Linked DNA regions of Homo sapiens. The protein of the gene in region 5 purifies or fractionates together with the protein of the main gene of each other region. This does not show direct contact. Each region holds a gene or a part of one and is shown on either strand. Other genes may lie near its edges.

Region 1 (4,196 bases), on a different chromosome or scaffold from region 5:
AAGGTGTGTATAAGAGGTTTTAAAAGGTTTTTTTTCTTTAAATCTTTGGGGATATATTGAAAATAGGGTCAAACGGGGCTGGGTCGAACCACCAATAATACGAGCATTCAGAAGAAAGGGCACCTGAGCCAGAGAAGGCTGAGGATCTTGTTCTTCCTGGCAAGGAAATCGGTGTCAGAAGGCATTTAGGACCATTATGTCAAGCACTGAAACGCAGCTTACCTGATAGCACCACCTGCCAAGAAGAAAGTGAGCCATGGGGTTTTCTGGCTGGAGAGCAATGGCTTTGTCCACATGCTCCTAAGGGGAAAATGTAAATATAAACTAACATCAGACACCAGAGTTGCTAAAAGAGAGGCAAGGGCCGGATGCAGTGGCTCATGCCTGTAATCCCTGCACTTTGGGAAGCTGAGGCAGGTGGATCACCTGAGGTCAGGAGTTCGAAACCAGTCCTGGCCAACATGGTGAAACCCCATCTGTGCTAAAGATACAAAAATTAGCCGGGCATGGTGGTACATGCCTGTAATCCCAGCTACTTGGGAGGCTGAGGCAGGAGAATCGCTTGAACCCAGGAGGTTGCAGTGAGCCAAGATCACACCACTGCACTCCAGCTTGGGCGATAGAGTGAGACTCTGTCTCAAAAAAAAAGAAGAAAGGCAAGTCACTGAGGCTGTAGAAAAGTTTTTGGCAGGGAGCTGGAAAGGAGTGGGGAATCTGGGATAGGCCAGCACAAGGAAGGAGGAAAAGCCTGTCCTCACCTTGAAGCTAAAGCCACTCTGGATGCGCCTCTGGATGCTCTCATGCTCAGCCAGCTGACCACAAAGCACCGCATACCTAGGGGGGAAGCAGCAAGCTCAGGGACAAGGGCTGAGTACCATCACTGCAAGGAATGGATGCCCCAACCACAGCCTAGTTGCATTGTCCCCTATCCCTGTACCCTCAACTAGAGCTGAAAATACCTAATTTTCATCTGTACGTAATCCCCATTCTTTACGGACCTCTGGCCCCAATTAGTATTCTTTAGTAGATAATGGTAGGCTTACAAGTCTCCAAAGTATTCTAGGTATAAAAAAAGCTGGGTTCACCACAGTAAATCTCTCTTACACAGTAAATCTCTCCTACACTCATAAGGAGTACAGCCACAGGCATTAATAAAAACTTGAAAAGCATGAAAACAATCAGCATAAAAGTATGAGACCTGACTATACTACTTATCTTCTGGGCAGACAAAAAAGTGGGTCTCATTAGCCTTTAAGCATACAGGTGTATCACTGGGACTTGGGAAGCAATTTCTTAGGATAGTCACATTGGGAGGGGATATTCTAGGAATTTCTGATGTTACTTGGAAACCAACAGAACCAGAGGAAGAAAGACCTCCTATATATGCCTTCTCCCCCACATCCCCCCTCCCAAAGGGAACCAGCCAGCCAGCTTCCCATCATCTGTCTTCAGAAACAAAGTCTTACTTCCCCATCCCCCCAGCATTGTTCCTAGCAGCACAGTTGACATTCGATGAGTAACCAGCCCAAGTTGCTTTTTCATGTATATGCTAAGTATCCGGGGGGTATCAGATACTTCTAGAGGCTCATTTCCATGTTTAATCCAAACAGCTGTTCCTCAGGAATAGCTGTTCATCCTTGGAAGCCCAGGGAAGCAGTGACACCCAAGAAACAGTTACCTGGCCTCTGAGAAGAACCCTTGCAGAGACAAAAGTTTCAGCAACAGATGGAGAAACACAGCCTCTCACTTAGCTCACAGTCTGAGGGTGGAGACATGGAAAGCAAGGGTGGCGGTGGGAAAGGAAAGGAACATTTTCACTAAAACTCAGGTGCTGGAACCAGACCCCAGGATATGAGTTAGCCGTGGCCCAGGTAAGCTGACAGAACTTTGCCTCACATGAGACCACAAAAAGGGCTGATGTTTTTGCAGCCTAATAAATTGACCACTAAACTTCTGGGGGGTGAGCTCACATCTACTTTTCCTCACATGAACCAAGCAAAGAAGCCAAAGTACCAGCAGCCAGGGATCACACGCAGGGGAAAGAAGAGCTTATGCAGGATAGGGGAGCTGCAGATTGTCCCAGCCTCCTGAGAGCCAAGAACTCCAGTTTTGTAGCTAGGATGACTCTTAACAAAGCTACTCATTTCTCCAAGCCCCATCAGAAAAAAAGCTTGTATTCCCCGCTTGCCTCATCCCTAAGCCACCTCCCCTACCAGAAACTTCCCTTGTCTCTGGCTAGGGGTAGACTGAGGCATGTGGAGATACAAGCCAGAACTCCCTCTCCTGGATCCTTTGGAAAATGCCTCTGTGGCCCAGGCAGAGAAAAGAAAGGGCTGTCCTCTGCTTTGGCCCTTGCTGGCTCTTCCCAGAACACTGCAGGGTGTTATTACCACAGGTGACAGTCAGCACTCTCATCCCCCTTCTCCAGAGCAGCCTCTGCTTCTTCTTTTCCTGTAGGACGAAGGTAGATCCAGAGTTGACATAGCTCTTATGCACACTTTCATAGGAAGGCTTGTGGGAAGAATGACTGCTTTAGCTCTCACCAATCCCTACCCAGCTTGGACTTGTTTGGAAATAGTTGTGAACTTGAGCAGAATGAAAGGCCGCAAAGAAGCCAGTCACAGTGGCTCACGCCTCTGTGCTGTGTAATCCCAGCACTTTGGGAGGCTGAGGCGGGTAGAGCGCCTGAGGTCAGGAGTCGGAGACCAGCCTGGCCAACACAGTGAAACCCCATCTCTACCAAAAATACAAAAATTAGCTGGGCGTGGTGGCAGGCGCCTGTAGTCCCAGCTACTCAAAAGGCTGAGGCAGGAGAATCGCTTGAACCCAGGAGGCAGAGGTTGCAGTGAGCCGAGATTGCACCACTGCACTCCAGACTAGGTGACAGAGCAAGACTGTCTCAGAAAAGGCTGCAAACGGCTTCTAAGGGAAGACTTCAGGGATGACTTCTGCTTCACCTTGGCTTCCCCATCTGTCATTAGAAACCCCAGTTACCTTCTTTTTATAATGCCCACCTGATGTGCTTGAAGCAGATTTTAGCATTTAAAATATAAAAGGATCCAGCCAGGCACGATGGCTTATGCCTGTAATCCTAGCACTTTGGAAGGCCGAGGTGGGTGGATCACTTGAGGCCAAGTGTTTGAGACAAGCCTGAGCAACATGGTGAAACCCTGCCTCTACTAAAAATATAAAATTAGCCAGGCATGTTGGCACATCCTGTAGTCCCAGCTCCCCAGGAGGCTGAGGCAGGAGAATCACTTGAACCTGGGAGGCAGAAGTTGCAACGAGCCAAGATTGCACCACTGCACTCCAGCCTGGGCGACGAACTCCACCTCAAAAAAAACAACAACAACGGATCCAACACAATCAGAAATTGTCCCCAACAGACCTTACTCTGGAGGGGCAGTGTCCATGAATCTCAAGTTGTATAAAATTTAAGTAAGTGGGGAGAGAGATCACAGCTTTGAAAAAATTCCCTAAAGGGGATGGGTACATTGGCTCACACCTGTAATCCTAGAACTTTGAGAGGCCAAGGAGAGGATAGCTTGGGACCAAGAGTTCAAGACCAATCTGGGCAACATAGGCAGACCCCATCTCTTTAAAAAAAAAAATTCTCAAAAGGATCCACGATCCAACAATATTAATTAGCTCTAGGCCAAAACTCTTTCACAAGAGCCACATGGACTGAGGTCTGACCAGAGATGACGTTCACTTAGTCTTACCCGAGTTTTCTAGGTTAGTGTTCTAACAAAGAAATGAAAGCCCATAAACATGAAAGTTCTGACAAGCGTCACTTAAGAGTATCGAGGCTGGAGCTTACGGACCACCAGATAAGGACCATCATGCCTATGCACTGGAGAAGACACTGCAACATAGGATTTTTTTTTTTTTTTTTTTTTTTTTTGAGACAAGAGTCTCACTCTGTCGTCCAGGCTGGAGTGCAATAGCACGATCTAGGCTCACCGCAACCTCCGCCTCCAGGTTCAAGTGATTCTCCTGCGTCAGCCTCCCGAGTAGCTGGGATTACAGGTGTGTGCCACCACACCTGGCTAATTTTTGTATTTTTAGTAGAGACAGTTTTGCCTTGTTGGCCAGGCTGGTCTCAAACTCCTGACCTCAGGTGATGCGCCCACCTCAGCCTCCCAAAGTGCTGTGATTACAGGTGCGAACCACCGTGCCCAGCCAAGAATTCTTTG
Region 2 (4,196 bases), on a different chromosome or scaffold from region 5:
GGGTCTATTTACCAAAATAGATAATGGTCAAAGCCGTGACCAGTTCCTGCTGGAACTGACTTGCCAGCTACCCTGTCCCCTGACTTAGAGTTTTGACCCTCAGTGCAGTGTGGTAGAAACTGAACCCTTTTAGAAGCCAGGAGGCCCTGGTTCTTAGCTCATTCCTCACTCTGTAACCTTGTAGAAGCCACATTTTTTTCTGCAGAGTGAAGGGAGAGTGGATATAGCCATCTCTAAGGAAGGCTTGATCCCCTCCCAGCTGGTGGCTGTCTGAGCCATGCTTGGGTATGTGCTTTAGGTACATCCGGTAAGGTAAGTAGAAAGGACCTGTCCCTGGAATCTAGGCCAGGAGGCATCAATGTCTGAACCACAGGACTGGCTTTCATATGCATGATAAGGTGTATTGTACAGATAAGGAAACTAAGGCTCAGGAGGTTAGATAGGTGGGCTAGGTTATACAGCAAATAAGCGACAGAGCTGGGCTAGACCCCAGGTCTGACTGTCTCCAGATCCTGCTCTTTCACTCTACTCCAGTGCATTTGCTCATGAGTGAGTCTTTTGGCTGGACTGAGAGTTCCCTGAGTCAGGGCTGGCTATGAATCCGCCCACTGCCCAGCAGTGTAGCTCAGAACCAGGCTGGGCACAGAGGGCTCCATGTACCTGGTATTGAGCTATTTGAAAAGATTGTGCCTCTCCTGTTGACTTTTGAGTTTTTCTGAGTCAGTCCAATTTTCTTTATGGCCACAAGGTGGTGGCAACAGCCTGCAGGCTGCCCAGACCAGGCCAGACGCACTTAGCTAGCGTTGCTTTTCTCCTAGGCTTAGTGTCTCCTCTGCTTTGGGTCTCCCTTCCCTGGGCTCAGCACTGGGGAGTTTGCAGACGTCTCAACTGTCATTTCATCTCCTTGACATCCTTGTGAAGCTGGCAGGGCAAGGAGTTTTGTCTATGTTTTACAGTCAGGAAAGCTGTGGTTGAGAGAGAGAGGAGCTGTCATGGTCACGTGGTGAGTAGTGGGAGTGGAATGGAGCTAGATCTCAAAGACTCCTAGTTGAGACCTCTCCATCCTCAGAGAGGCCTACACCCTGCTTGCTCCTCTCCATTCTACCTTTCCTTTTGGGTTTATGACTTGACATCAAGATTCAGAACTGGGTTGAAGAACTGGAGTTGAGGGAGAAAGTGGACAAGATCAGGGAATCTTTAGTAATAACTCTTATAGGAACATAAAGCATATGCAGAGCTTCATAGATTATGAAGAGCACATTATTTACCATAGGCAAGACGTGGTGCTAGCAGTTGACCTGCATTCCCTCTATGATGAGAGGAGTGAAGAGTTTGGGCTCTGTAGTAGAAAGGTGTGGAAGTCAGGTTGTTAACAGTGGACACCATGTGGGGAGGGAATGATTCGTTTCTCATTATATATTGTGACATCAGTTTGCTTGTCAAAGTCCACGTTTCTAAAGTACTGCCACTGTCTTAGTGGGCCCTCCACGCAGTCCTGAGATGGGTATGTCCTGGCCGCGGATCTGACCAGTGCCCCCTTTCTCTTCAGATGCAGCCCTGTTGGAAGCTGCCCGTGCCAACAATATGCAAGAAGTCAGCAGGTGAGTTGAACCCCAGGCCTTGCTCTCCCCTACAGGAGAGGCTGAGCAGGGCGAGCCTCTTCTCGTGTGATGACTTTGCTTTGGAGGAAATCCTTACCCTAAGCTGGGAACTGTCCCCTGTGACATCTCTGTAGTCACAGAGTCACCTGGGCTTCCTTTACCCAGATCACCCCTTGGATATTTTCGGTAGGGAGTCAGCTCCCAAACATCCCTGGATCCTTCAGCTATTTTGTTCTTCACTGGGTTGGTTTGGACTCCCTTCAGCCCCCATATCCTTTGGGTTCTTCTCTGAATCTTCTGATTTGTGCTCATTTCTTTGGGAATGGCCATGTATTACTGCTTGCTGCCTGGACAGGTTGCAGGTCGGCATCTATGGAAAGGCTTGGGGATTTGGGACAGAGCTGGAAGAGACCATCTGCCAGAAGGTCTGGGGCTAGAAATGCCTGCCTGCAGGGCCAGGGGCCCATACCTGGCTTTGCCCGGGGACAGACTGCATTTCTGTAGCTTCACTGGCTCAGCTAGTCTCCAGTGACCACTGGCAGGTTGAATTTGAGGCTTATTATTTGGCAAGGGCAAGATTCAACTCGGCTCAGCCCAGTGCCAGGTATAGGGCAGAGTCTGTGTCCAGGATGGATGCTCAGACTGGGGCCAGCATGGGGCATCAGTTACAGGGCTGTTGGTTAAGGGCAGAGGTCTTATTCTTGTTGAAACTATGCCCCCCACTGGGCCTAACCTTGGCCTCTCTTGGCCATTTATATAGAGCTAGGTGGCCATAGGACACCCCCCTTCCTTGCCATCATGTCTGCATGTTAGACAGGAAGTCAGGTGTTGGGGTGGCTATTTCCACACCCAGTGCCACAGGCCCTTGGTGTTCTTCCCCACCTTAGCTTCCTGAACATACAAGAAAGTGTTGAAAAGCAGCCCACCCCACCAAGACTTACTGCTTTGATTCCCTTTCATTTTATCTGCAGCATTATTATTGATTCTCAAGGGTGCTTTTGGGTATTAATGTTCAAGCCTTAGTTTTTAATAAACCACTTTTGGAAATATGGGCTGGGAGTTGTTTTGTAGCCAAATAAATATGTTGGAGCAATAGTTTAATAAACATGCGATGATGCATCTTAAAAACCAAGCACAGATGTCATCCTGTTGTTATAAGAGCCATTCATAACTGCAGGCTGTGTGTGGCATCTTCATTCCTCCAGAAACAGATGTGCTTTGCTTCATTCTGCTGCAGTACAGGAGTACGGGTATGGAAACTGACCCTTGCTGACCCTGGAATCACCTGTTGGCTACTGCGAAGGGCTGCCGGGCTGCGACTTTCCCCTTTTGGCAGGGCATTTGCAGAGCAGCAATGTTGGGAATCCACTCTTCCATCCCCCAGGGGATGCCACTACCATATTCCATTGAGCTGCCAGGCATTGATTATTTAGTTCTTTCAAATACATGTTTTTCTAATAGCAATTAAACACCCATCCCAAAAATACAGAAAGTAATTGAACTTAACGGTGTATGTGTGATTCAGACAATTTTTCTGAACATTCATTCTCGTGTGGATAGTGTCTGGGGGGGCTTTTCATGTGTGTCCCCAGGCTCTAGCCTGCTTTTCTCCTGCCTCCTCTTGTCCCACCTCACTTGGTCAGGATGACCCTGTCAGAATCTCCCTTCACTCCATGTGAGGACATCAGAGATGAGCGAGGCACAGACCTGCCCTCAGCCCCCATCTCATACAAGACCACAGAGCCAGGAGCAAGCTAAGCAAAGGCGGGAAGCAGATGCTGGCTGGCTGCTGGGCCTGCGGAATATGTTGATGCTCCTGAGGTGGGATTTGTACAGGGTGTCAGAAAAGAGGGAAGGTTGTCTGAGAGAAGCTGGAATGTGCAAGGCCTGCCATGCCCAGGGTGAGGAGTTTTGAACTCTTACTCTGTACACAGTGGGGAGACGTGGGAAGTTTTTGAGCAGGGGAATGACCCAGTTAAGGCTGACTTGCAGAGGAGTGAAGGATGGACTGCATTGGGAAAAGGCTGAGGGCCGATCTGTTAAGAGGCTGTTTCTGTTTCAGTAAAGACAGATTCAAGATGATGAGGGCCTGAATGAGGACATCCTTCCCTCCCCCTCACCCAAAGCAGCTCTTGATTATGAAAGAGTGAGTGGGCCTCTGCTGGGCACTGCAGATGGGGGATGGGGATGGTGACCCAGGCCCTGGTCTCAAGGAAACAGACATGTAACCCACCAGTTATAGTTCTTCCTGCGAACAGAGCCAGGTCTGGGGGCAGTGGGGGTAAAGGGAGCCTGACCATCCTTGCTAGAAGGAAACTTTCTGGAATTCCTACAGTAGGTCCTTATTCAGCCTTTCTGTACCCTAGACTCTGTACAGGTGGTTCATGCTGCTCTTTATTTCTTCTTCAATGTCCTGGGCTCTTAGCTCTGCCCAACAGACCTGCCTATAGCAGGACAGAATCCCATACTCATTTATTTCTTTGAATTTACACATACAGTCATGCCTTGCTTAACAATAGGGACACATTCTGAGTAGTGCAATTTCATCACAGTGTGAACATCATAGAGTATACTTACCCAAACCTAAATGGTAAT
Region 3 (4,196 bases), on a different chromosome or scaffold from region 5:
TTAATTAGAACTTAGATGGAATGCTACTGTTAAATGATTCATGCTATGGAATTATGTTAACAAATGTGAAAATTTCCGGATGTTTCAGTTAAACTGTCATGGAAGTATTTTTCCTCTCACAGCAAATCCTAACTTCTGTGAGCCAAAACACTGGGAGCTTTTTTCAAATGCACAACTTGAGAATACTAAAAGTTAATAATTCTCTGAGAAACTTACTTCTGTACAAGCTTATTCCAGTTCTCTTTGACAAAATCCCATGCCAGTAAGTGTCCAGGAAAATGTCGACCCACTGTTCTAATGATAAAAGACAGCTTCTGTGTTCGGAAGTTATCTCCATTCAGGCTACTTTTCATTAACCTGAAGAGCAAAGCAGATTTAGCCTCCAAAATTATTATTCATGAAGAAGTGATGACTGAACTTAAATTAAAATTAGTATGGTTTCCTAATTAAAGCTGTGTAGCAAATTGAGAAATAACTGTTGCATTAGTCTACGGTTGATCTATAGATTGAAAATGTCATTTTTTTTAAATGAAGAAAGAACTCACCAATAAAATAGGCATTTACCTATATTGTCACATGACAATAAATAGTTTTTAAATAGTAAAAACATTTAGGAAATAAGTTCTGGTAGAATTTATTACAATTCGGGAGGTGGGTATTTTTTTCTGGTAAAAACCTTATTTGATTTGAATGGGCAGGTTAATTATATTACTATTCTTAAAAAAAACTAGGTCATTTGAATTATTTGAAAATTAGGATACATTTCAGAATATACTCTTATTAATGTTCGTAGCAAACATTTACTGACACTATGTACTAAATAATGTTCTAAGTCCTTGACACAACAATGCTATAAAGTAGGTATTTATTAATACTACCTAACTCAATTTTATAGTTGAAGAAACTGAGGTTATCTAATTGACCCACAGTCACACAGTAATAAATACCAAAGCCCGACATCTGAACAAAAGCAGTTCTCATCTACTATGCTATACTATCTGTTTATAGTGAGAAACCACGCCCCACTCCAAGACTGTGGCAGTATTTTTAGGAGAGAAAAAAACAAAAGCCCAACAAAACGTGATGGATTAAATAAATTATGATAGGGCCATACTACAGAATATTATGAACCCATAAAACACTTTAGTTTTTTTTTATATATAAAGCAGGCTTCATGAAGTGACATGGAAAATCTCATAGACTGATCATTCACTAAAAAGATGGTCACAAAACACTGGGTATGGTATAAACCTAATATGGTTTTTAAAATGCAGTTAAATATGTAGGTATGTGTGTATGTATGTACGTACATATGTACAAATATCCATTCCCACAGATGAATACAAAGACCAGGACTGACACTGTTGTTAACAGAGAAAACGAGAATGGAAGTGAAGGATCATGAGAAATACTTTCATATTTTACTCTATATTCTTAGGTACTGTTTAAATTCTTTATCATGGGCATTCTTAGTGTATTACTAGCATAGTTTAAAAACAGTGATTTTTCTCTATTTGCTTAAGTCAGAGGCTGGCTAATACTTTAAAGAAAATGACTATTTACAGCGTATCTTTTGGTAAGTGGGTCTGGACAGGTACTGAGGACATCTCTGGGACACTATTAAGATTTATCTGAGCAAAATCATACAACAGAAGTAATGAGACCCAGAAGCCTCCTTCTATCCTCAGTGCGACTTCTAACACCTGTGCTCTCTACAGCAGATACCTCTATATTCCTCTTGGCTATGTAGAGCTCCTCTACCCCACCACTGCCTGTTCTTCCTGTCAGGAGGCCCTACTTACTGCCCTACCTTCATCCATATGACACTCCTACTTCTGGGCCTTCATCACTACATATTAAAAAGGAAAAGTCTGACAAATAAATTCATATGAACGTAGAACCTAGAAGGTTTAATATGTGATTTTTTTTTTCTGAAATGCCTACATTTTTAAAATGACAGCTTGCACAAAGCAATGCCTTGGTCCTAAACTATGGAGTACCAATTGTGGTGTATAAGACAACATTCCAAGGGGAGGAAGACTTTTTGAGCAAGGAGTAGGAGGGGGCTGTGACTCCTGACATCTTGTAATCCCTTTTGGGCAAAGGATTTTCTGCTTGTCCATAAAGATAAAGCCCAGCACCTGTAGTCTCCTCACCACACTGTCCAACTTAGGCCTGGCCTGTAACAGAAGTGGGGAAAAGAGATCCCCTCAAAAATGAGCTCCTGACCAAGAGCACAGTGTTTGTATTCTTTTGGTTTCTGTATATCATATTCCTCGGTGATTTCATACCAGTAAAGCTTCCGCACATCCTCTGAGCTGGCAAGTGCTTCTAGTATTTTGTTCTTCTCTGCTTCAGAGCCTATAGAAATGTATTTGCCCAAAAGGAATGACCAGCCTTTGTCAGTTTTTGCTCCAACTTTGAACACAGTTGTCATGACATCAGTAGGTAGGCTGTAAGAGAGGTGGTCAAACATGAGAATAACAAGAAAATATTCTGAATACAAAGGCGAAGAGTTGGCTGTGGTGGAGTTTCTGGTGTGAGGGTTGGTAATAATAACAAGTTTGAGTACACAATTTAGGGTTGAGAAAAAGTTTAATTCAGTGACTGCTATCTTCCTAGTAGTGTGTCTATGGATACATCAGTTCAATTTAATATTCACAGAGTACTCACAAAGAACCAGGCAGGCGACTGGCTGGACACTAGGGAGCGGAAAAGGAATGAGAGCCTCTGTCCTCTGAGAACTCACAGGCTACTACGAAGTATAGAGCAATAACTATATGCATTACAATTCAGTGTGATAAGTTTCATGGTAGAACTATAGCAGTAAATGGGGTGCAGGGAGAAAACACAGTCTACTGCCTTTATTAAGATCTCAGAGCTGGGAAAGACCTCAAAACGTTATCCAAATCCTCCACCCCAACTCTTCATCTGATGCTTGAATCTTCTCTCCATAATGCACGGTAAGGAGCTGGAGAGAACTAATTACCCCCAAAAGCTTTTCTGTTAACTGCTAACTCTACCTGCTATGTTTTATTTCTAAATTAAGAGACTTGTTTATCACCTCACACCCATTAGGATGGCTGCTATCAAAAACCCAGAAAATGGCAAGTGTTGGCAAGGATGTAGAGAAATTGGAATGATGGTGCAGCTGCTGTAGAAAACAATATGGCAGTTCCTCAAAAAATTAAAATTAGAATTACCATATGATCCAGCAATACTACTTCCAGGTGTATTTCCAAAAGAATTGAAAGCAGGGTCTCTAGGAGATATTTGCACACCAATGTTCATGGCATTATTATTCACAATAGCTAAAAGGTACAAGCAGCACAAAGGTCTATCCAGGAATGAATGGATAAACAAAATGTGGTATATACATACAATGGAAAATTATTCAGCCTTTAAAAAGAAAGAAATTTTAGCCAGGTATGGTGGCTCATGCCTATAATCCCAGCACTTTGGGAGGCCTAGGTGGGCAGATTTTCTGAGGTCAGGAGTTCAAGACCAGCCTGGCTAACATGGTGAAACCCCGTCTCTACTAAATATACAAAAATTAGCCAGGTGTGGTGGCGGATGCCTGTAATCCCAGCTACTCCGGATACTGGGGCAGGAGAATCAATGGAACCCGAGAAGTGGAGGTTGCAATGAGCTGAGATCGCGCCACTGCACTCCAGCCTGGGTGACAGAGCAAGACTCCATCTCCAAAAAAAAGAAAAGAAAGAAAGAAAGAAATTTTAATGCATGCTACAACATGGAAGAACCTTGAAGACGTTATGGTAAATGAAATGAGCCAGTCACAAAAAAGCAAATTCTATATGACTTTACTTATATGAGATATACAGTGTAGTCAACCTCACAAAAACAGGAAGTAGAATAGTGGTTACCAGGGGCTGGTGGGGAGAGGGAGTGAGGAATTATTCAATGGGTACAGAGTTTCAGTTTTGCAAGATGTAAAAGTTCTGAAAATATAGTACACAATAATGTGAATATGCTTAACACTACTGAACTGTACAGTAAAAAATGGTTAAGACAGTAAATTTTATGTTATGTGTATTTTACCACAATTTTTTAAAAAGTCTTGTTTGACACCGCATGTTCTCACTCATAGGTGGGAATTGAACAATGAGAACACATGGACACAGGAAGGGGAACATCACACTCTGGGGACTGTTGTGGGGTGGGGGGAGGGGGGAGGG
Region 4 (4,196 bases), on a different chromosome or scaffold from region 5:
CAGTGTTCATAAACATTGATTCATAGAATAAAGGCATCAGAAGCACCTGAGTTATTTGTTAAAACTGCAGATTCCTGGTCCTCCTGCCAGGCTTGATGAATAAAAAGCTCCAGCTGTGGGACGGTTATTCAAAATTTTCCATAGGTACTATTGGTAATATAAATACACAATCAGATTTGGGTAACTGTTGGTCTAGATGATTTCTAAGAGTTTTTTCAGCTGCCAAATTCTCAAGGTGAGTTGAAGGATTAATTAAGTGCAAAAGAGGCTTAACTGTAGAGCACAGGCTCTGAATCTGAATACCCTAATTGACCTGGGTAAACTTCCTTGGTCTTGTTACGTCTCTCCTTCTTATCTTTAAAAAGAGGATAGTAATAGTACCTGTCTTATAGAGTTGATTGTGAAGATGATGCATGTGAGATAATGTATGTAAATAACTAAAACAGTTTTCAACCCGTAAGTGCTCAATAAATGTTGCTCACTAGTACTATTACACCACCACCACTGCATTTCTGGAATGCCAGTGCACAGTTGCAGAAATCCTATTTGTGAACAACATGACCATGACTGAAATTGCTGGCCAGGATCTTTTTCTGGGATCCTAACAGGCTTACATGACAACCATTTCTTAGCTTTTTTACGCGCTCAGTTCTCATTGAGCTAGTTATCTCATCAAGGGACTCAATCCTCTATATATGCATAAGTGTACATAAATTAGTCCTTATGAAGCACTCCTAGTTTAAGGTTTGCAATTTTTTCATGTATTTGTTACGTTGCCCTTTAAGGTAAAATTTGTAGTTTAAGAAGCTAAGAGGCTTTTTAAAAGCAAGAATAATATGCTTATAGTGCCACTTTAATCAATTTATTTTAATTTTGGTGTGATTTTAAAAACCTTTCTCAAGAAAAAGCCCATGGGCCAGGTGCAGTGGCTCGCGCCTGTAATCCCAGCACTTTGGGAGGCCAAGGAGGGCAAATCCAGTCAAGAGTTCAAGACTAGCCTGGGCAACATGGCAAAACCCCATCTCTACTAAAAATATTTAAAAAATTAGCTGGACATGGTGGTACATGCCTGTAATCCCAGCTACTCAGGTGGCCTAAGCATGAGAATCGCTTGAACCCAGGAGGTAGAGGCTGCAGTGAGCTGAGAACGCGCCACTGCACTCCAGTCTGGGCGACAGAGCGAGACTCTGTTTCAAAAAAAGAAGCCTATGATTTAAATTATTCATAGAATAAAGTTGGAACATTCCAACAGACCAACATAAAAGGCTGAAGTGACTGTGCACATCTCTCAGTCTAGATATGTTGATTCCAATCTTGACTACGTTTAGACTAGAATCCAAATAGCCTGATTTCAAGTATAAAGCTTCTTTCACTAGAATATATTATTTGAATATGTCTTCAGTTTTGTCTTTACCCGATAATAATACAAGCATGCATTAGTGAAAATACATACCAAATTAATTTCTTCTGGATTGAAATCCTCAGCCAGGAAAGCAGTCCTAGTTAAAACTTCATGGCGCTTTGTTTCATGAATCTGGTCCAGTTTAGTCCCTATTACCAACAGTGGTATTTGGTTATCAGCAAACTGTTCTTGATCATAATCCCTGTGATAAATAATAATGAAGAGGTGAATAGAATGTATCTTTCTGGTGTAGATGTGTAATATTTAAGTGCAACTAAGTTACACTATTTTACTGAAAATTAACTGATTTTTGCTGCCTTCACCTACAAACCTACTTTCCTTCCAACTTCTTCCATCTACTTGTTCTTTTATCAATCCATCCTCATCATCAGATTCCAGCTATTCATCTAACTTCTCAAAATTTGGTCCCATGTTTTTATTGAATATTGAACAATACTGAATAATTGAACAACTAAGTGCCCATCAAGTATATTACAGTCAGTGGACTTAACTTCCAATGTAGCTGTGTCTTCTAAGGTTAACATAACAGCTCAGGAATATTTCAGAGTAGAAGCAGAGAGTGGATTTAAGCCTCATCGTAGCAAAAACCCAAAAGCCTAGCATGGCACTCAAGCCTTGTGCTAGAAGAGAAAATGGCAAGCTTCTTGGGTACCTTTTGGGGTATGCATTAATTCTATATCTACAATACACATTTCTGTCTGAATAGTAAAGAAATAAGAAGAATAAGAAAATAGAAATAGGGAAGCTGAAGCCTAGAATAAATCAAATATAGGTGATACTATAGCCTGGGAAAGGTGGATTAAACACATGGAAATGGAAGGAAACAGCTGAAATGCAAAATGAATAGTAAAAGGAAAGAACTTAGTACCAAGTAGTTGTTTCCTGAAATGAGAGCCATGGGAGATAGAGGACGGGCAATAAGAACCACTTAGGGTTAGTGGCCTTGGATCACTGGCTATTACAATCCTTATTTTTTAAAAAATTTATTTATCCAAAGAACAGAGTGGTGATGTAAATGATACTTCTCATTACTGAAAAGAACACAGAGGCCATTGCTGTTGAATTAATTTAAATTCTACTCACATATTAGAAATAAAACAGATTTGGATTTCTGACACGTTATAAGCTCAACTTACAACAGTCAGCAAAATCTGGTTGTGCACAATTTATGACAGTAAATCAATATTGCATAATCCAATCACTACAACCCAGTCGAGCATAGCTTTTTTTCTTCCTTTAACACTACTTTTCTTTCTCTTACAGAAATTCTAAATTGGGGTAGGGGGCAAAGTTACTAAGTATTTATGCCCTTCACAATAATCTTACAGCGCCTCAGCAAACTGTTCAGCCTCGGAACACAAGTGTTTTACTATACAACCTCCCATCTCACAAAAATATTACCATTCTATTTATTGCATCAAAGCCAATAATAGCATGATCAAGACCTTTGATTATTCATATCAACAGCAACTCTAATTAAAGAGACATGGTTCAAAGCTACAATTCGCTTTGTTAGGGAATGAAGTTTTGAGAGTGTCTTTCCTTTAGGACTGTTTCCTTCTGTCTCACATACAAAGTTTTGCATATCTTCTATCAAATATCATCTTTGATGTACATACATCTCTCATATAGTCTTGCACAATTCCTTGCACACTGACACATATAAAGCATACATATATAGTTTGCTCTCTTATTTCTCTTTTTAGCTTTCCTTTTAACTTTTTCATAAAATCTTGCAGCATCCAATTTAAAATTTAATCTTGAAATCTTCTTTGGTAAACTTCTGAAGAACTTTATCATGGATGGATAAGGCTGATAGCTCCTTAACATCACAAAGAGACACACAGCCAGGTATCATATTATATGCATAATACTGGGTGGAAAAATAAAGACAAAAAAACTTGCATCTTTCAGACCACTATATTTAATTATCACTTCAGAGAAGATTTAGAATTCAGAGAAACAAGTTTAAAAGACAATACAGGGAGACAATCAGCAAATCCAGAATATAGGAAACTGTACAAGACAAACAGCCATCTTCTTCTACAAATAAAGTGCTAGGAGGTTGGAAAAAAAACAACCAAAAAGGGAGAACCTAAGATTAAAAGATACTTAAGAAACCAAATACAACCAGTGGACCTTATTTAGATACTATTTCGAAAAAATCAATTATAACATTTATGAGACAATTGGGGAAATTAAAATAATATTTGGTTATTAAAGAATTATTATTAAAGTTTTAGCTGTGATAATTATATGGTGTCATGTTAAAAAAAAGCCCTTATGTTTTAAAGTATATATGGATGAAATGATATGATGTTTTAACATTTGGTTCAAAATAATCCAGTTGAGAGTGGGAGAAGATAGAAAGTGGGTAGAGATATGGATGAAACAAGACTAGCTATATGTTGATAATTGTTGAAACTAGGCAACGGGTATATGGGAGTTCATTTTCCATTCTTTGTATTTACATATGTTTAAAATTTTCTATAATAAAAAGTTAAAAAAAGTTATTGTGGTAAAAACTACATAATATAAAATTTACCTAAATTGTTTAAATATGGCTAAAAACTCAAACTGATATAAAAGATATATGCTAAGCAGTCTTGCTCCTACCACTGTACCCATCCACCCATCTCCCCTGGCCCCCTATAGGTTACCATTTTTATTAGTTTCTTATTTTTCACTGATTCTTTATCCAAATATAAATACATATTATTTCTTTTCTTTCTTATACAATAGGAGGTATACGATATATATTCTCTGCATTTTG
Region 5 (4,664 bases):
GCGCCCCTGCCCGGGACGGGACTCTAGAGGGCGCCACACTCCCTTTCTCCAGTGGGAGCTTTGGGCTTCGCAGGAAATCTCTGGTCTTTCACTATTTGCCAACTCGCCCCTGAATTCCTTCTCACGATGGTGTCAAGAGCCTGGACGCTGGCCGGGGTGGAGGTCTCACTGGGGTTGGGGTGTCCCGTAGCCCCCCGCATCGAGGACATCTCCCTGCTTTCTCCTCTCGTCCTTCCCCCATAGCAGAGCGGCTGAGCCCAGGGCTGCTGCCCACCAGAGGACGGGGTACAGCCTGTGGCAGGAGCACCGGCCACCTCACTCCCTCCCTCTGGGTGGGGCAGCAGGACCCATAGCAGAGGGCCGTTATCTCCTTTGGGTGGAAGTTTCCAGACCGGCTCTGTTCTTTGGGAAGGAAATGGCTGGAGGTGCCATGCCTCCAGGTCCCAGTTCTGCCACCAAGGTCTCAGTGATTGACCTGGCTTTGGGCGGCGAGCGGACCATGGTCCTGACGGTCGCGAACTCAGGGCCCGTGGGACTGGGTGCCCTGTGCCTAGTTCACAAGCCTACAGCCTCAGGCTCCAGCACCATCCTCAGCATCCCATCGGGTCTCAGGCCTCCGTGGCTGTGGGCTCCCTCCCGGGCATGTCCAGGGCTGCAGCATCATCTTGGCAGACTTGGGACCTGGCGGACTCCCTGGGCTCTTCCCTGTCATCCTGCCCTTTCCTCTCCTGCTTCTTCTGTAACAAGAGGCAGGAAGGAGCCCGCGGGAGATGGGGAGACTCGGACCAGCCTCACCGTGTTGCCGCACACCCTTGCCTGCCCCTCCAGAAGCCTCTCTCGGGCCCAGGGGGACACACAGGTCTTAGAAATGGTTTATTGACAAATGGCTTCTGGGGAGGGGGCCAGGATTCCCTCTTAGCTACAGAAGGTTCCAGGGTCCAGCTACAAGCAGGGCCCTCGCACGGGGCTCACACAGAGCAAGGCCACTCAGCTGGAATGTGGCCCCTCAACACCACTGCGCCCAGGCTCCCGGACACTGGACCCCTTTGCAGGGGTCTGGGTGTCCCCTGAGGCCGGGGCCGGCTTCCCTCGGGGTGCTCGGTACTTGTTCTTCTGGCCGTAGAACAGGTTCCTCTGGAAAAGGTGGGGAAGGCGGCCCTGGTGCAGCAGCACAGCCAGGACCATCCCTGCAAGAGAAGGCAGGTCCCAGGTGGGCCGCGGGGCTCCTGGGCCCAAACACAGACAGGACACCCACTCCCAGGCCTGTGCCAGGACAGGCGAGCCAGGCAGCCTGGCCAGGAGCCCCAAGAACCCTGAGGCCCAGCTCCTGCCTGGTCCTGGTCTTCCCGCCCTGGTCATGCCCCTCTCTCTGGGTATGCCAGCCATGGGGACGGGGGCAAGCCGGTGGGGTTCCTTGTACTTCTGGACCACCCTCTGGGATGAGTGACTGGAATTCCCCTCCCCCCACATTGTCCTGAGCCACTCCCAGAGCTTCTGTGGCCATTTTCCTCCGGGACCTGATGTGGCGTCCCAGGGTGGCTGCTTGCAGGGCTGTGGCCTGGCGTAGAGGTGGGGGATGTGAGTGGACAAGAAAGATGTGGATGCCCCTGGGTGGGAGGCTGGGCCTGGCTAAATCCTCATGCGAACGTTCTCCCAGAACTCCAGGAGCAGAGACTCCTAAATCCCCGCCTGCCTTCCAGGTCATTGGGAAGGGCAGGTGTTCCGGGCAGAAGGGGAGAGTAGATCCTCTTCAAGTTTGATCTCACTCCTCTAAGGATTTAACCCACAGTGTGTGAGCTCCACTAGGGCTGGCCTGAGGGGGCCCTGCCTGTCACCACCTGCAGCTGCTGTGGCTCCTGACAGTGGCCCCTGTGCCTACAGCTTGCCTACAGTTGCCCCTCACTCGGCCCTCCAGGCCCACACTGGTCCTAGCTCTGTTCCCAGGAGGGCAGGCCCAGGGAGGCGGGATGACCTGCTCAGGGGTGCTGCCAGCAGGTGCCGGTGGCCGCTCACACCCAGGGAGATAGCCCCATGTCCACACCTGGCTACGGGGCTCCTGGCTGCAGCCTTGGAGCTCCCCAGGGCTCATGCTGATACTGAACTTGTGGATAAAGGGGTTAATGGAAGGACACAAGCCTGTTTTTCGGTTTCCTGAAGCTGCCCTAAGATGACAGGAAAGGGATGCTGTCAGAGGTGTCAAGCATCCAGATGGATGAGACGGGAAGAGACGCAGGAGCACAGCGTGGGGCTGACAAGCATGTGGACGACCAAACACTGCTGACATGGAGGGGCCGGATCGCCCCTCCGCAGGGACGAAAGCTGGGAAACAACCCAGTTCTTCCGCAGATGCCCCATGCTTTCAGAAGCTGGCGCCCGGGTCCCTGTGGGATGGGGTGGCCCTGGGACTCGCCTAGGAGGAGGGACGGCAATTCCGCATGGGAAGCTCCAGGGCCCCAAACCCCAAAATACAGAAGCAGCCAGTGCCCCCCTCCCTGGCCCTGGCAGGAGACAGGTTCCTCTCTAGAGGGGGCATGTGGACTCGAGTATCAGGCCCGCCCAAGCCTGGAGTCCCGCCTGAAACACGGATCCCAGCCTCCTCCTACTTGGCTCCTAGAAGCCGCAAATGCCCTTTGGGCTTCTCCACAGAGGCAGTTCTACAGTGAGAGGTTGCAGCCGGGTGAAGAGTATTTCCCCAGCGACACGCCCTTCCCAGAACACAGGATGTGCCCTTGTTAGAATACGGCCTGGGACATAAAATCAGTGAAATCACGGTGACGTCATACTTGAGTAGAGTGAACCTCCAATTCGATGACTGGTGTCCCTATATGAAGAGAACAGACAATGACACAGAGGAGGCGGCCAGGGGAACCGGCAGACATGGGAGTGCTGCGTCTCCAAGCCCGGGGACACCGGGGGTGCCAGAGGCCCCCGGAGCCCGGAAGAGGCAGGAGGCTCCTCCCCAGCAGCCTCCGAGGAGAGCTGACCCTGTCAGTGCTGCCAGCTCAGACTCCAGCCTCCAGAGCTGGCTGAGCATACAACCCTGTCACGTGAAGCCTCTTCGTTTGCGTCCTTTGCCTTGTAGCCCGTGAAGCCACCACAGGCCATGGTTGGGGCCTGAGAAACTCAGGACGAAACTGAGCTCCCACCCGGAACCCTGCCCAGGCCTCACCGACACTCAAGTGCAGGTCAGAACCAGGACACTATTTCAGACACAGGAGGTCTGAAGTGTACCTGCCAGGTCCCCGTTCTCAGGAAGCTACTGTGAGACGGGCACCAGCAAAAAGAAGGAATCAACCGAAACAGGAGGCGATGAGGAAAGCAGGAAACAGAAATACAACCAGGATCAGTGAAGGGCAGCACCATACCGGAGATGGACGCCTGCGGGTAACCCGGAGCTGCGGATCCTCGGGGGAGACGCTGCCCACACAGAGCACTGGTGCTGAACTAAGGAAAGCACCCAGAAGCCTGGGCAGGAGAGAGTCCAGGACCTCGTCACCCGCAGGAAGCAAGGCCTGTGCAGGAGCGGAGAGGCCTCCGGGGCCACCACAGCTCACCCGGGCCGTGTTTCCATGCCAGGGAACTAGAGGGGGCTCTGGAGCTGATCAGGAGGAAGAGGCCGACCCACCCGGAGTGAAGGATCCGCAGGAGGAGCGTGGGGAGGCAAGGAAAGAACATCCGCCCCCCACATCCCAGGAGACAGCCCAGGGTTGATACCTGAACTGAAGAGTCTCGGAGAAGCCCTGCAGGCCCAGTGTGTGGGGACAGAGAGGCCAACACGGAGCTGTTCCTAGCAGAGGGCAGTGCTGCCTCGGCAACGGGGGCAGGAGGGGGTTCCTGATGCACTTCGTATGCTTCCTAGGACCCTGCACATGCCTGAGAGACTGTGACCACATCAGAACCATGGCGACAAATCACGATGACGTCAGTGTCACCATCGCAGGGCCAGGTGCCTGAGAGACCCCCAGCTCCTGTCTTTCCCCCCAAGGGGAGGCTGAGGCATTGCCCCTGAGACCTCCCCAGTGTAGAGCCAGCAGAAGCTGAAAAAAGCTTCCAGAATTCCATAGGAACCCAGCTGCCCTTCTGGTACCTCAGTGAGGTGGAGCCGAGTGTCTGAGAGCAGGTGCAGGAGAAGGTGTGGGCTCCACCTGGGCCTCTGAAGCCAGGGGCCAGAATCCCCAGATCTAGGTCCAAGAGGGGGCTCCATGACCTCCCCATGCTGCTCCTCTGCTTGGATCCAGGATATAAGAAAGGAGGGGCACACACTGTGGGGGAACTCTGGGGTCCCCTGTGTGCATCAGCGAGTCCCGGGTCTGCCCCACCAGGATGCAAAGGGCCTGGCTGCTCCAGCCCCATGCTCACAGCCCTATAAGTGCACGATGGCACCCTATATCATCTAAGCGGGGCTCTCTGCCTCCTGAGGCTTTAGGGACACCAGAATGAGCCCCCCTCGGCGGAGTCTGGCTCTGGGTGTGTGGAGATGCCACCTGGGACGGGAACCCCAGGTGCATGGAGCCCCACTGCAGACACCATCCCCCGTGTGCCCAGCACCCCTTGCAAGGTTGGCCTTTCCCCAGCCTGTGGCCTCCTTACCTGGCTGCAGCTTGCTCGGCACCGGGACGGTGTCCACAGTGAGACATGCCGTCACAGCCCCTACCCCCCAAACC
Region 6 (3,128 bases), on a different chromosome or scaffold from region 5:
TCCCTGCCTGTCTAGTCATGTATGAGAAGACACTTCCCGGCAGTGTGTGAACAGGCACCTGTGGTGGGAACGCTGCTGTCTCTGGGCTGGCCATCTAGAGTGTTAGGATCCCCTGTTGTTGTAGAGGATGCTGCACATTTGCCTTCCTGCTTTGAGACGCTTTAATGACGGAGACCTCTTAGTCCCACACCTTCCTCCTCAAAGCCCACGCATCCTGCCTACTGACCTGGGTCATCTTGACCTTGTGCCAGGTCTCCATAACCCCTCGGACAAACGCCGCCCTGGGCTTTGCTCAGATGCTCCCCAGAGACCAGCACCTCTTCACCAAGGAGCAGCTGTTTGAGCGGATGTGCATGGCCCTGGGAGGACGGGCCTCGGAAGCACTGTCCTTCAACGAGGTCACTTCTGGTGAGGAGCAGCGGCGCGGGCCCTGGAGGTTTCAGAGCGCTTTTCCCTGCATGACTCCTTCTGTTCCAGTGCATGCCATGGGGTGAATCTGGTGTAGACGTAGCTTTGAATTTATTAAGTATTTTGTAAAAGATAAGTTGTGGTCATAAGAGAGTTGGAGCTAAGCAAGACTTCTTAGATAATTTAATTGGACAAAAACTTAACCTATATGCCAACTCTAGACACATTTAATTGGTTAATTGTTGGTAATGGCTACAGGAAACGGAATAAAATTGAAGCGGCTTCATTGTTCTGAAGCCATTACTGCACTGGGATATCCAGAGAGCTGAAGGAGGGTCCCGGGGGCCCCTGGGCTCCAGGTCCATGGGTTTGCCTCGCATAGGCCTGGGCTTGTGCTTGAGAACTGCCATGCAGTGAGCTCCAGTATGCCCCCGGGTTCTAGATTTCCAAATAAAAGAGCATTTCGGAAAGTTTTAAGACTCTCTTAAGGAACAGTGGTGAGGTGCCAACGTCCTCACTGTCCAGCTTCACGGTGGGTCCTCGGGAGGAAGGGGATGGAGGTGGTGCTGCCTCAGTGCTCTGACCGGGACACCTGGGGCCCAGCACTGCTCTGCGCCTGCAGTGCTGAGGATGCCTCTGTCTCGACCCCGCCCTCCAGGGGCACAGGACGACCTGAGGAAGGTCACCCGCATCGCCTACTCCATGGTGAAGCAGTTTGGGATGGCACCTGGCATCGGGCCCATCTCCTTCCCTGAGGCGCAGGAGGGCCTCATGGGCATCGGGCGGCGCCCCTTCAGCCAAGGCCTGCAGCAGATGATGGACCATGTGAGTCGGCTCTGGCCACACCGCTGCCCTCTGTGCTCCCCGGGGAGGGAGTCCCTGGGTCTACCACACAAGGGTCGCCCACGGCCGCCCCAGCGGAGCTCAGCTGCAGGCCCCACCTGGGTTTCTTCCTTCTGGGCTCTGCTGTAGTTCCCACCTGTGGAGTATTTTCTTCTCAAATGAGGACATAGATGCTCCTAATGAAATTATAGATGTGAATCTGGGAAGAATATCAAATAAATACACCGAGCAATAGACCCAGGGCCCACATGTCCTTCAGACTGGGCCAGGAAGGGCCGATGTGTGCCTGTGAGGCAGCTGTGGGTGGGTGTGGGTGGGTGGGCTGGCATGCGGAGCCCTGCTTTCCTGGCACTGGTCACAGGGGCAGGAGACCACCTGTCGGCTGAGGAGTCCTGTTCCTCCTGGGAGGGGAAAGGCCGTGTTCCCAGTCTGCCATTTCTTTTCTGTGCTTTGGTGCTGGAGCCAGGCGGCCAGCCTTGCCCCTGACACAGTTCCCTCCACTCACAGGAAGCAAGACTGCTGGTGGCCAAGGCCTACAGACACACCGAGAAGGTGCTGCAGGACAACCTGGACAAGTTGCAGGCGGTGAGGCCCTGGCCAGGCGTGGGGGCTACGGCGTCACACAGTGTCCACACAGCACCCACGGTCCCCACCCCTCTCGTGAAGTATTTCCAAGGCACACAGAGTACAGAGAACACTCTGACCGATGTGAATTCTACCCAGCTCAACTGAAACTTACGTGTTCCATACTTTTTATCCTGAACTCGTCAAGTGTGTTCCCCCGAGGTAGAAAGAAGGCTGCCACAGTCTCCTGTGCCTCTTCCTGCCATTAGCAATTACCAATGTTTTGTCAGTTTTGTTTAATCTTTTCCCAAGTCTTACACTTTTTTCTTGAACATTTTTTTAAAACAAAGCTTTAATTTTAGAGTAGGAATTTTTTTTTCTTTTTTTTTTTGAGACAAAGTCTTGCTCTGTCACCCAGGCTGGAGTGCGATGGCGACATCTTGGCTCACTGCAACCTCTGCCTCCCGGGTTCCAGTGATTCTCCTGCCTCAGCCTCCCGAGTAGCTGCGACTGCAGGCATGCACCAACACACTCGGCTTTTCTTTTTTTTTTTTTTTTGAGATGGAGTCTCTCTCTGTCACGAGGCTGGAGTGCAGTGGTGCAATCTCAGCTTACTGCCACCTCCACCTCCCCAGTTCAAGCATTCTCCTGTCTCAGCCTCCCAAGTGTCTGGGATTACAGGCACGCGTCACCATGCCCAGCTAATTTTTGTATTTTTAGTAGAGGTGGGGTTTTACCACATTGGCCAGGCTGGTCTTGAACTCCTGACCTCAGGTGATCCGCCTGCCTCGGCCTCCCCAAGTGTTGGGATTACAGGCGTGAGCCACAGCCCCACGCTGATTATAGTGTTAGATGTAGAAAAGTTGCAGGCGCGGTGCAGAGAGCTCCCTGCCACCCTGCCTCGCTCCCGTGGAGGCCCCCATGGGGCAGTCCTCCCACCTGAGGAGCCCCCGCCGACCCGCGGTGTTGGGTCCACACGTGATTCAGATGTGCTGAGTCTCCCCAGTGTCCTTTCCGGTCTTGGGAGTCCACATGGCGTTTGATCGCCCATCTTCTTAGGCTCCTCTGGGGTGACAGTTCCTCAGACCTCCCTTGTTTTGAGGGCTCTGGCAGTTTTGAGGATTGGTCTCATGTTTTGTAGGACGTTCCTCAGTTGCGATTGTCTGATGTGTTTCTCACAGTGGGCAGAGCTGGAGTGAACGTTTTTGTCCCTGGGTTTGGTAACTGCTGCTTAGAACTCAGGAGAGGTGCACGGCTCTTTGTCCCATGTTGTGAACAGATGGGTAGGCAGTGGATAGGTAGTTGTTTCTTCA
Region 7 (4,196 bases), on a different chromosome or scaffold from region 5:
AATTCTCCTGCCTCAGCCTCCCGAGTAGCTGGGACTACAGGCATGCTCCACCATGCCTGGCTAAATTTTGTATTTTTAGTAGAGATGGGGTTTCACCATGTTGACCAGGCTGGTGTTGAACTCCTGACTTCATGATCCACCCACTTTGGCCTCCCAAAGTGCTGGGATTACAGGCGTGAGCCACTGCACCTGGCCGAATCTCTTCTTTTTTTTTTTTTTTGAGACAGAGTCTCACTCTGTCACCCAGGCTGGAGTGCAGTGGCGCGATCTTGGCCCACTGCAACCTCCACCTCCCGGGTTCAAGCAATTCTCCTCCCTCAGCCTCCTGAGTAGCTGGTATTACAGGTGTGCGCCACCACACCCAGCTAATTTTTTTTTTTTAATAGACAAGGGGTTTCACCATGTTGGTCAGGCTAGTCTCGAGCTCCTGACCTCGTGATCTGCCTGCCTCGGCCTCTCAAAGTGCTGGGATTACAGGCGTGAGCCACTGCGCCTGGCCCCAATCTCTTCTCAAGCAGGGCTTACACACACAGGACTTAATACTAATATAGAGCTTTAGAATTTATTGAGAGCTTCCCATAAATTATTTCACATCAAAACTCTGCTTTGAGGTAGATATTTCTGTTTACCCAATTTATTGATAAAACTGAGACTCAAATTAAGTAACTTCCTAAAGTCATTTCAGGTTCATACTCAGGGCAGACAGGGCATAAACCTACTTTGTCTAACCAGAAGTTCTTTTTGCTCATATATTTGTTCATCTATAAACTTGTGAGCTACAAGCTAGCAGGTTCTGTCTAAATCATGTAATACATTACCAAGGCCCGAAACACATTTTAATGTTTCTTGATAGTGATAATGATAACAACAAGGCCGTCTGCCGTTGCCACCAACTACACTTTTAAAAATAAATTTTTCCACTAATGCCGTCTTTTATTTTCTACTGATAAGTCAACAAGCAAAACCCCCTCACATTAGGTTCTGAGGAATGCCACAACAGAAAACAAGGACGATAAAAATAGTTGCAAAAAATAACCCGTTACTAGAAAGTTCTAATGCTCAGACTGTCCAAGACAATCAATGACTCATGAAAGAAAAAAGTAAGATTTACCTTTAACTTAAGAGATTCTCCAAGTAAGGTTCCCTTATAATCTGTTGTATAGGTCCAATCATATGGTTTAATAACCTCTTTGGAGTGTTCACCCTCCGTCCTCAAATACCAAAATGAGAAGGATCAGATTCAGTGATGCAGAATAGAGATTATCTGTATTTATATATCACATCAAATTATATTCTATAATAACATATCCTATTAAATATATACACTTGTTATAATTCACCAGTACAAGGTTTTTCTTACAGTTTTTCTGCATTTATTATTTAACTTGTCATGTACTGATGTAGTCTTTTCAATTAGTCTGTATACAGCCTGAGGACATGGTTTAAAGGTTTATACTTATTTGTATCATCTAAGGTACTTAGTACATATTAGGCACAAAGTAAATAATTGCTGATTTGACTATCAAAGAAAAACATGTTGTCTTAATTTCAATGCTTCTCAAATAGGGTATTTATTAAGCATATCATAAGTAAACATTTTTTCTTAAAAACAGGAACATTAAGTATAGCCTACTGCCTCTTCAGTAAGGAACACTGAAAAATCGAAAACGTACATAGCTCAGCTCAGTTGTAATTCACTTTAACAAGTATTCAAGCAGTGGGGTAATTAACTTCCATTTTTATGTCTGAGAAAAACGAATTCTAGAATGATACAACTCTCAAGTTTAATAATACCAGCCCTTCATTCTAACAACACACACGTATCATTACTGAATATTTTTTCAAGTCTTTTCTCTTTTGTTTAACCTAATTACCTTTTTTGTTTAACCTAATTGACCGGATTCTCACCTGCTTTCTTGCCACTCTTCAGCACAGGCCACTTTAAGCATTCCTTGGTAGTTGTTTACACATCTTAACGCATCTGTAGCATTGAACTCAATTCCAAAGCCAGACCCATGCTGGATTCTTAAAACGTTGTCTCCAAACATCATTTCAGGGAGAGATGGCATATGTAATTCATCGGCTAATCTATACGTAACCAAAAGTCGGGTGAGATAATTTTATATCGCTGTTGGCATTTTTGTTTCTTTTCCATCCCAACAGAATTCTTCCTACTTGCTGAATGAGTTACACAGCACATGATTTAATCAATATGATATATTTGCAAGGTCTATAAAATGCTTTCATCATCCATTCTTTCATCATCATATGGCACTGTACTAAGTAGTGGGCTAAATAAGATAAATATACAAATACGTAATATAATAGCTTATTATACTACTATAATATATAGCACACAGATATTACTATAATATATATCATGAGGGTATGAAGAAAAGATAGCAAAGCAATTAAAGATACTGTCTCTTGTAGGAAAATAATTTTTCCATTAAAATTCTCAATTGTTAAAAGTTTCAAAACGTGGTGATGAAAAAAGCAAAAGCACCTGACACTGATGAGGGAACTCAGCACTTGCCTACACAGACTTTCAGAAGGATTGTGTCAATTTACATTTCACCCTGGGGCAACAATCAAGCAAAAAAAAAAAAAAATCACAGGAATTTAACATAATTTACACACTTATGACCCAAAGTATCAGTTTTAGAATACCTGTACTAAAGAATAATTCCAAGTACAGAAAAATATTATACACATTAATACTTATAATGGCTTTACTTATAATCATGAAAAAGAAATACTCTGAATGTTTCATTATAAAGCAACAAATGATTATGCAAACCAAAGTATATCCATATGATGAAATATTATGGAACCATTACAAATGTTTAAAGAGAGACTATAATAATATGAAAAAATGCTTATGATAAAATAGTAAGAAAAAAACTGGACACACATTGTATATTTATTACATCTAAACGTGTATTTCTGTGTGCACATATCAGTGATCTAACTTTGAGGTGCAGGTCTTCAGGACTGCACAATGTTAACAATGGTCTTCAGGACTAACAATGTTAACTTTCATCATAATTTTAAGTAAAATTTATTCTTTGTTATTAGGAGATAGAAAATATTAAATACTTAAAAGATTAGATACAATAAACTGTAATTGGAATATATATTCCATAAGATTCCATAAAATAAGTTTTAACTTGAATAATGCATACCAAATGTGAAATAATATGTGAGTCTGTGGATTCTAACCAATATATCTGGAAAAATGTGGCAGTCCTATAAAATATTCCACTCATATATGTAAAAGAATCACTGTTACTAATTTACAGTCCTTCAGTGTTCTAAATATAGAGTTTCTTAAACATAGGCCAAAATGCCCTCTTTTTTTTTTGAGACGGAGTCTCGCTCTGTTGCCCAGGTTGGAGTGCAATGGCACGATCTTGGCTCACTGCAACTTCCGCCTCCCAGATTCAAGCAATCCTCCTGTTTCAGCCTTCCTAGGAGCTGGGATTACAGGCACGTGCCACCATGCCCGGCTAATTTTTGTATTTTTAGTAGAAACAGGGTTTCACCATGTTGGCCAGGCTGGTCTCGAACTCCTGACCTCAGGTGATCCACCTGCCTCGGTCTCCCAAAATGCTGGGATTACAGGCGTGAGTCACCGCGCCCGGCCTGAAAATGCCCTATTTCTAACATCATCAAGCTTCCCACTTAAAAACAGGTATAACTAGTTACAAGGAGAGAAGACAGGAAGCTCCTGTGGTTTTAAGGTGCCTTAAATATTCATTAGAAGAGCTTCTTTAATCCAATATTTTACCCAACCAATTTATTTAGCACCTTAGTGGTTTTTACAATCTATGATAATGCATCACAGAAAAATTTGGGATTGGTGAGGGTAAGTCTTCCTTTTGTCATATAAAAAAAGGCATTTTTTTTTTTTTGGCGGAGGGTGGGGGACGGAGTCTTACTCTGTCATCCAGGCTGGAGCACAGTGGCACGATCTCAGCGTACTGCAACCTCTACCTCCCAAGTTCAAGTGATTCTCGTGCCTCAGCCTTCAGAGTAGCTGGGATTACAGGCCTGCACCACCACCCCCAGATAATTTTTTTTGTATTTCTAGTAGAGGCGGGGTTACACCATGTTGTCCAGGCAGGTCTTGAACTCCTGACCTCAGGTGATCCGCCTGCCTCAGCCTCCCAAAGTGCTGGGATTACAGGAGTGAG

What was found.
Region 1: the proteins of AQP12B (region 5) and RMDN3 purify together in Homo sapiens (affinity purification with mass spectrometry; one large-scale study listed by BioGRID and IntAct). This does not show direct contact.
Region 2: the proteins of AQP12B (region 5) and CLPB purify together in Homo sapiens (affinity purification with mass spectrometry; one large-scale study listed by BioGRID and IntAct). This does not show direct contact.
Region 3: the proteins of AQP12B (region 5) and LNPEP purify together in Homo sapiens (affinity purification with mass spectrometry; one large-scale study listed by BioGRID and IntAct). This does not show direct contact.
Region 4: the proteins of AQP12B (region 5) and RABL3 purify together in Homo sapiens (affinity purification with mass spectrometry; one large-scale study listed by BioGRID and IntAct). This does not show direct contact.
Region 6: the proteins of AQP12B (region 5) and SPG7 purify together in Homo sapiens (affinity purification with mass spectrometry; one large-scale study listed by BioGRID and IntAct). This does not show direct contact.
Region 7: the proteins of AQP12B (region 5) and TIPRL purify together in Homo sapiens (affinity purification with mass spectrometry; one large-scale study listed by BioGRID and IntAct). This does not show direct contact.

The regions. Positions count from the first base shown.
Region 1 is NC_000015.10:40,737,743-40,741,938, forward strand, and holds part of RMDN3 (regulator of microtubule dynamics protein 3), read right to left. Parts: intron 2,452-4,196; coding exon 2,391-2,451; intron 835-2,390; coding exon 759-834; intron 301-758; coding exon 223-300; intron 1-222.
Region 2 is NC_000011.10:72,427,717-72,431,912, reverse strand, and holds part of CLPB (mitochondrial disaggregase), read left to right. Parts: intron 1-1,549; coding exon 1,550-1,601; intron 1,602-4,196. UniProt on the Homo sapiens protein: Functions as a regulatory ATPase and participates in secretion/protein trafficking process. Has ATP-dependent protein disaggregase activity and is required to maintain the solubility of key mitochondrial proteins.
Region 3 is NC_000005.10:97,022,778-97,026,973, reverse strand, and holds part of LNPEP (leucyl-cystinyl aminopeptidase), read right to left. Parts: intron 2,454-4,196; coding exon 2,292-2,453; intron 358-2,291; coding exon 217-357; intron 1-216. UniProt on the Homo sapiens protein: Release of an N-terminal amino acid, cleaves before cysteine, leucine as well as other amino acids. Degrades peptide hormones such as oxytocin, vasopressin and angiotensin III, and plays a role in maintaining homeostasis during pregnancy.
Region 4 is NC_000003.12:120,696,970-120,701,165, forward strand, and holds part of RABL3 (rab-like protein 3), read right to left. Parts: intron 1,605-4,196; coding exon 1,454-1,604; intron 1-1,453. UniProt on the Homo sapiens protein: Required for KRAS signaling regulation and modulation of cell proliferation. Regulator of KRAS prenylation, and probably prenylation of other small GTPases. Required for lymphocyte development and function. Not required for myeloid cell development.
Region 5 is NC_000002.12:240,675,558-240,680,221, forward strand, and holds the end of AQP12B (putative aquaporin-12B), read right to left. Parts: intron 4,651-4,664; coding exon of another isoform or gene 4,591-4,650; intron 4,228-4,590; coding exon of another isoform or gene 3,929-4,227; exon of another isoform or gene 3,882-3,928; coding exon of another isoform or gene 3,715-3,881; exon of another isoform or gene 3,466-3,714; coding exon of another isoform or gene 3,366-3,465; exon of another isoform or gene 3,254-3,365; intron 2,822-3,253; coding exon of another isoform or gene 2,784-2,821; intron 2,163-2,783; coding exon of another isoform or gene 2,042-2,162; intron 1,188-2,041; coding exon 988-1,187; coding exon of another isoform or gene 969-987; 3' UTR 861-968; downstream 1-860. UniProt on the Homo sapiens protein: Putative aquaporin. Could form homotetrameric transmembrane channels, with each monomer independently mediating water transport across the plasma membrane along its osmotic gradient.
Region 6 is NC_000016.10:89,552,728-89,555,855, forward strand, and holds part of SPG7 (mitochondrial inner membrane m-AAA protease component paraplegin isoform 1 precursor), read left to right. Parts: intron 1-251; coding exon 252-408; intron 409-1,066; coding exon 1,067-1,233; intron 1,234-1,758; coding exon 1,759-1,836; intron 1,837-3,128. UniProt on the Homo sapiens protein: Catalytic component of the m-AAA protease, a protease that plays a key role in proteostasis of inner mitochondrial membrane proteins, and which is essential for axonal and neuron development.
Region 7 is NC_000001.11:168,181,794-168,185,989, reverse strand, and holds part of TIPRL (TIP41-like protein), read right to left. Parts: intron 2,089-4,196; coding exon 1,909-2,088; intron 1,212-1,908; coding exon 1,112-1,211; intron 1-1,111. UniProt on the Homo sapiens protein: May be a allosteric regulator of serine/threonine-protein phosphatase 2A (PP2A). Isoform 1 inhibits catalytic activity of the PP2A(D) core complex in vitro. The PP2A(C):TIPRL complex does not show phosphatase activity.